Homo sapiens: one gene and its partner. The protein of the gene in region 2 interacts with the protein of the main gene of each other region in a pairwise test. Each region holds a gene or a part of one and is shown on either strand. Other genes may lie near its edges.

Region 1 (3,500 bases), about 130 Mb from region 2:
ACACATAAACTGATTATAAAAAGTTAAAGTGATCTCTCAATGTTCTCCTTTGTTTTTCATTGTGTTTAGTGCGATTATTATAAACCTTAAATAACAAGTGGCCCAAACAAAGCACTATTAGTGATGCTGGAACTGCTCCCCAAGAAGCAGGGAAAGTTATGACATCACAAGAAAAAGCTGAATTGCTTGATATGTACTGTAGATTGAGGTCTGCAGCTGTGGTTGTCCACCACTCCAGACAGATGATTCTCCTTGTAAACAGATGATGTAAACTTACAGTATCAACAAATACAGTATTGTAAATGTATTTTCTCTTCCTATAATTTTCTTAATAACATTCTCTTTCCTGTAGTTTATTTATCATAAGAATACAGCACATAATACATATGTAAAATACGTGATAATCCACAGTTTACATTATTGGCAAGGCTTCCAGTCAACAGTAGGCTTATTTGTAAGTTTTCTTGGAGTCGAAAGTTATATGTGGATTTTCCAGTGCTCGGGGAACTGGCGCCCCAATCCCCGTGTTGTTCAAGGCTCAACTGTATGCTTGGGAGTTCAAGTACAGTATTGGGTAACACAGAAAGGGGGGGTAAGAGGGAAAAAGGCATTTTTATGATCTTCAGGTAAAGACAGCAAGAGAATTAGCCACTACAGACATAAAAGAGTTGGAAGCCATGAGAATACAGGAAAACAATCAAAACCATGGGAGTAGGTAAGGACCCACAAGAGAGTAGGCAGAACACAGAGAGAGACCATGAGGTTTCTGTAGGACACGTCTGCCAAACTCAAACAGTAATTTATAAGAAAGTCTTTATATCTTGGCTCTCCTAAGCTAATGAAGAGGAGAACTTGGAGGAAGGCACTTCAACTGAACACCATGACAAGTTGGACATAGTATCATTACCTGGACACAGTATCATTACCTGGTTGTCAAGCAGGGGCTGTAGCATGGCACTTGCTGAGCCTCCAGCCTTGAAGGAGTCTCTCTGGTAAGACCCTACTGGATCAAAGCTGTATACAGCCCCCTTTCCTTAAAGAAGAAAACAGTATTCATAAGGATGGTATCCAATCACAATCCCAAATCATCGCAAAAATAAATCAGGTCAAAACGTGACACAAAACGGACTATCACCTTGGCTAAAACTTCAGGGAACAGTTGGAACACAGCCACTGTTGCACTGGTGACAGCTGCAGCACACACACTGTTGCACATGTGACAGCCAGAACCCAGTCACCATTGCACAGGTGCCACCCAGCAGACAGCCCCAATCCCCGTGTTGGTGTGTTGTTCAAGGGTAAACTGTAGGCTTGGGAGTTAAAATACAATATTGAGTAACACAGAAAGGGTGGGTAAGAGGGAGAAAGGCATTTTTATGATCTTCAGGTAAAGATGACAAGAGAATTAACCACTGCAGATGTAAAACAGTTGGAAGCCATGAGAATACACAAAAATAATCCAAGCCATGGTAGTAGGTAAGGACCCGTAAGAGAGTAGGGAGAACACAGAGAGAGATGGTGAGGTTTCTGTAGGACACATCAGCCAAACTCAAACAGTCATTTGTAAGAAAGTCTTTATTTCTTGGCTCTCCTAAGCTAACGAAGAGGAGAACTTGAAGGAAAGCACGACTTATGTATATAGACAGGTCCAAGGGACACATCCGCAAGACACAGTAAAACGAAGAGAATTCTGTAACCTGTAAAATACGATACTGCTTTTGTTTAAAAGAATAAGAAAACTATTTGTACAAGCACAAAAAAGTCTGGAAAGATAAGTAACTGTGGCTGGTCATCTTTGAGCTCTGAATTAGAGGCAAGAAAAGAAGGGAATTAATTCATGTGCTTCTATCTTATTTGAGTTTGTTACAAAGAACACAGGTGATTCTACAATCGTTAAAAAGGCCTGTTAAAAACAACCGTGTTCTGGGTATGAGAAATCACGAGTCATTTACAAGGTATGATTTTTTAAAAACATAACTGATTTAGAAAACACATTATATACCAGAACTCAGTACCCTGGGAGATGTGATATAGGGACAATCTCCTTACTAACCATGTACAACTGCCACTGTTAGCTTTGTATGTTTTCTACTATAGAACTGCGTAAACTTGGCCAGGCGCGGTGGCTCACGCCTGTAATCCCAGCACTCTGGGAGGCTGAGGTGGGCCGATCACGAGGTCAGGAGTTCGAGATCAGCCTGGCCAACACAGTGAAACCCCATCTCTACTAAAAATACAAAAATTAGCTGAGCATGGTGGCACGTGCCTCTATTCCCAACTACTTGGGAGGCTGAGGCAGGAGAATCGCTTGAACCCAGGAGGCGGAGGTTGTGGTGAGCCGAGATCATGCCACTGCACTCCAGCCTGGGCAACAGAGCGAGACTTGGTCTCAAAAAAAGAAAAAGGATTGTGTAAACTGAATTCTCTGGTGGAGAAGGCACCATCTGAGGTCACCTAAGAAACTGGGAAGTATTTTTGCTGGAAGCAAGCTTGGGACAAGACATGAGATCACAGCAGGCAATCCACTAACCTCAATATACAAAAAAAGAAAGAGATGTAAGGTGTAAAGGCAGAAAAATGATTGTATCTCTCATGAGGATGACAGGCCACAAGTAAACTGAGGCCCAAAAGCTTTACCCAAGGATGGAACCAATCTCAGAAAACCACACACAACAAATTTAAAAAAATAAACCAAAGAAAGGGTGGGCTATGTCCAAGAACACAGCTTTAAAGACCCCCTAGAAGAAGCAAGAGAGACACTAGTAAAATCAGTATAAAACAGCAAAAATCAATAAATAAAAACAAAAATAAATGTAGAATGGCATGAATCTTGATTACAAAGTGCTTTTCCTCATCAAAGTAAAATCCAAAAAGCACAATCATTTCAATGTAAAAAATAAAATCAGACAAGTCTTAAAAGAAATACAGCTAAGCTTTGGATGGGAGAAGTTTTTCTAACAAGGCAAGAAACTGAATGTCATAAAGAAATGATTGACAGATTAGACTGTATGAAACACAGCAATTTCTGTGTAGCAAAAGGCACCACCCAAAAGAGACAAATAACACTCTTGGGAGTATCTATAATATCACAGACATTTGACACAGTCGAATGTAGTTCTTGAAAATCAGTAAGAAGAAAACTAACCTGCAAATAAGGAAATGGGCAACAGTTAATATATGAATCAGTCTCCAAAGAGGAAATTTATAAAGTCAATAAACATATGAAAACATGCCCAAGAATATATATAAATGAAAATAATAAACTGTTCAATAGGCAAAAAGATGTTTCAAAATGTGTTAATTCTAATACTGGGAAGGTTATATAAAATCGGGTACTCAGGGTACTGGCGTATCCTTCAGAAAGAGTATACTCAACAAAATACAAAAAAAAATTTATCTGACCCAATACTTCAACTACTCGAAGTTTATTCTAGCAAGACAAGCATAATTGGGGAAGTACACAAAAATGTATGTACAAGGATGTTCATCATAGTGTTTAT
Region 2 (3,500 bases):
TTCCAGGTGATCATTAACCTATATGTCCAGCACCTTCCAAAAGAACTTCTGGGCCCTTCTGTCCTTAAGAATTACCTACCCATTTAATATGCCAACTTGAAATTGTTCTCTAATTTACTATATTGACTGAAAACTATTCTCTGATTATATCGTGTGCAGGAAACATCTTGCCTCCTCAACAAGATAAATTCCTTAATGGCAAAAACCATTTGGTAAGCATCTTTATAACCACTAGAATTCCCTAGTACCAGGCAATTTGAGTACTTAAAAAAAAAAAAAAAGTGTGAAGGAGCAAGGGTTTAATGAGCTTCTAAACCAGCAGTAGGGGATAGGATAAATCCTCAGGGCTTGGTGGGCAGAGGGAGATGCAGCTGATAAACAAGGGACTAGATACACTTCACTATGAGCATCATATACACAACCAACTCATACCCAGAGAAATTCTCTAAACCAATCCTTTCGCCTTTAACATTTTGGTACAGAAAAAGATTTTGCAGCTATACCTTGAGGCATGTCCAGAGCAGCCACAAATATTAAGCAACAGTAACTTGTTCCTGAACATATTAGCCTTTACAGAGAGTTCTGTCCTGGTGAAGGTGTGATATACTAAACACGTAGACATAAACCACCCTCTATTAATTTCAAGAACTAGTCTAGGCTGGATAAGGGAAGCAAAAAGGTACACATAAGTAAGCAGTGTATACTCTCAAAAGACCTATTTAATCCATGGCCTTTGCTAATACTGTCAGTTCAAGGGGATGGCAGAGATCAGAATGAAATTTATAAATTGCTCAGAAATAAGCCAACACTACCCCTGGCTGTTCCTTACCCTGAGCAACCCAAACAAAAAGCTTATTCACTTTAGTTGTGACTGGTCCGTCTGAGTTCTAAGTCAACAATGGGGAATTCTTGACATTCAATATTATCTGAGCAACTGGGTGGGAGCAAAATATGTGGTTCCTGCCAGATAGGAAATGACATTTTGAGCAGGGACAGGATCTGCTCTAGCCTAAAGCTTTGTGCAAGAGCTTGTCATCTAAGCAAATGACTGAGGGATGGAAATACATTTGGTCTTACCTTTATACAGCTAAGACAGTCATTATTTTACCTTCCTACTATAGGCACTGTGGAAGGTGGTTTATCATTCAACCCAACAATGCAGTCATGGTGCATCTGTCCCATCACATGCTGGCTGCTCAAAATAGAAACAAAAACATTTTCTGCCTTTTTAGCCCCTCACCTCCTGGCTTAGCTACAGAGTTAACTAACCTTTATAGCTAACAAACTGTCAGGTACCAGGGCAGAGGAACCAGCTGACCTGTACCTGCCCTGAGACTAAGTGATTTGGCCTTGGCCACAGAGCAAAGATACACAAGTCTTGAAGACAACTATTGATTCAATTGGACTATACTGTGGTTTTGTGGCATGTTGACCTTCACCTAACTTCCCCCTGAATTCATGTTGGTTCTGAGTTGCCTCAGCTTTGCCTCCTGGGATGAGTTATGCCCTGGCTGGCTCTGCTGGTCACTTTACCCTATCTTGGCACTCTAACTCTGGCTCCTGATCTCATCAGCATGCTGAAGCCTTAACCCTCTACTCAATCCCCTTCCCTTATCTCAAAAGTTTACTGTTCCCATTCCATTTCCTGTCTTTGGTGCTCAGAATTTGGTACCTGGCCCAGAAACTGAGAACTCTGGCCAGAGACTCATGAAGTGCCTGCCCCACCCCTGAAGACCACTCTTGCCCTTCCCTTCTGTGTGGTACCTGAAGATGCTGTTCCTCTTCCTGGAAAGTCTTCTCTAGTTGCTCCACTCTTGCCTGCTGCTGAGCCTGCTCTGCACACAGCTGGGACTGTAAGTCCTGAAGTTCCTGCTCCATTTGCACAACTTTCTTTGAGTTCCCCTTTTGGGTCTGCTTTTTCACATTCATAACGGCTTCATGTTTTTCCTGCATCTGTATTTTGAGCCTCAGAATCCTGGACATGGTCACCTTAAACATCTGTAAGCTTCTCTGAGATGCTGAAGAGTTTGAGGCTTTCTGCTCATGATGAACCTCTGTGACTTTGGGGAAGCCAGGGTAAATGGGAGCCCCTGTGGTCTTACTTGGCTCAAGGGCAGTCAACTTAGGATCCAAATTGTCAGAGGGTGTACTGGCCACTTCACCTTTCCCCTGTGATTTCACTGGCTGACCAGATTCACAAGACACTTTATTTATTTTGGATTTCAAATTTGAGGGGCCTTCAGCTCCAGGACCTGCTAATTCATCCAAACTGAATTTCCTTTTAGTTCTCAATTCCTTATTTTTTTCTATCATTTGGTCATTCTTTGGGGAAAGACAAGGATATATTGTCTCCCAGTCTTCTTCAGTAACTTCATATTCATACTCCGCATTCTCCTTATTTTCCAGAGGCACTCCAAGTTGGATGTAGTCTCCCTGATGAATGGAATAGACCCTTAAAGGTTCCAGACGCGCTCTGTTCAGCCAAACACCATTTAGACTCTGGGGAAAGTGAAAGAAAGAAGAAATAAGCTTCATGATTTTCGTCTTCTTAAAGGAATCTCTCTCCTGCTGCTGTAAAATCTTCTGCCTTTTCAGAAGGAAAACTCTTGATAACAAATAGAAAAGAAAGATTCATAAACGACCATCCTTAGAAACAGCATTCGTCAAGCAGTGCTTTGGCTTTTTACCTATATTTCACATTCATGCCTCCACAGAGAACTGCCATATAACAGGCAGGAATCACCTTATTATTGGTGGATAATTTACTCAAACACATGGAATAGCATTAAAGGAAACTGAAATTGGATAGCTCCTATTAACCTAAACTGGAGCAATGTCCCAAAACTAGAAAAAATGCTATTAGTGAAGAAAGCAGTAGCTAAGGGTGAGGTCCATGAAGTAGTTTCAAATGCTATCTCTGGATGTGGTTCCTTAACGCACTGGTAAGCAAGCAAGCACACATAAACCAAAAAAAAGAGAGTACTATATCTGGTACTGGGGTCAAATGGCAGGTAGGATCTGACCCAATTAATATCAACAGGGGTATATGGGCAATACAGGATAGCGGTTAAGAGCTGGAGCTCTGGACTCAGATGTGGGTTCATAGTCTGCATAGCATTTGGCAATTTACTTAACCTCTCCATGCCTCAGTTTTGTCTGCAGAACAGGGATGGTACAGTACCTACCTCACACTGTTCCAGTGAGGAATGAATAAGATAATGCATGTAAATCACTTAGCACAATGACTCACATAGAATAAATGCTTAATAAATATTTACTGTCTGGGAGTGGCAGCTTACATCTGTAATCTCAGCACTTTGAGAGGCCGAGGTGTGCGGATCACTTGAGGCCAGGAGTTCAAGACCACCCTGGCCAACACAGTGAGACCACCTCTCTACTAAAAATACAAAAATTAGCCAGGTGTGGTGGTGGGTGCCTGTAATCCCAGCTACTTGGGAGGCCAAGGCATGAGAATTACTAGAACCCAGGCGGCAGAGGAT

Evidence for each region.
Region 1: the proteins of RNF8 (region 2) and PSMB1 interact in binary tests that used the Homo sapiens proteins (3 or more experiments, as listed by UniProt).

The regions. Positions count from the first base shown.
Region 1 is NC_000006.12:170,536,308-170,539,807, forward strand, and holds part of PSMB1 (proteasome subunit beta type-1), read right to left. Parts: intron 1,034-3,500; coding exon 927-1,033; intron 1-926. UniProt on the Homo sapiens protein: Non-catalytic component of the 20S core proteasome complex involved in the proteolytic degradation of most intracellular proteins. This complex plays numerous essential roles within the cell by associating with different regulatory particles.
Region 2 is NC_000006.12:37,367,483-37,370,982, reverse strand, and holds part of RNF8 (E3 ubiquitin-protein ligase RNF8), read right to left. Parts: intron 2,606-3,500; exon of another isoform or gene 2,500-2,605; coding exon 1,765-2,499; intron 1-1,764. UniProt on the Homo sapiens protein: E3 ubiquitin-protein ligase that plays a key role in DNA damage signaling via 2 distinct roles: by mediating the 'Lys-63'-linked ubiquitination of histones H2A and H2AX and promoting the recruitment of DNA repair proteins at double-strand breaks (DSBs) sites, and by catalyzing 'Lys-48'-linked ubiquitination to remove target proteins from DNA damage sites.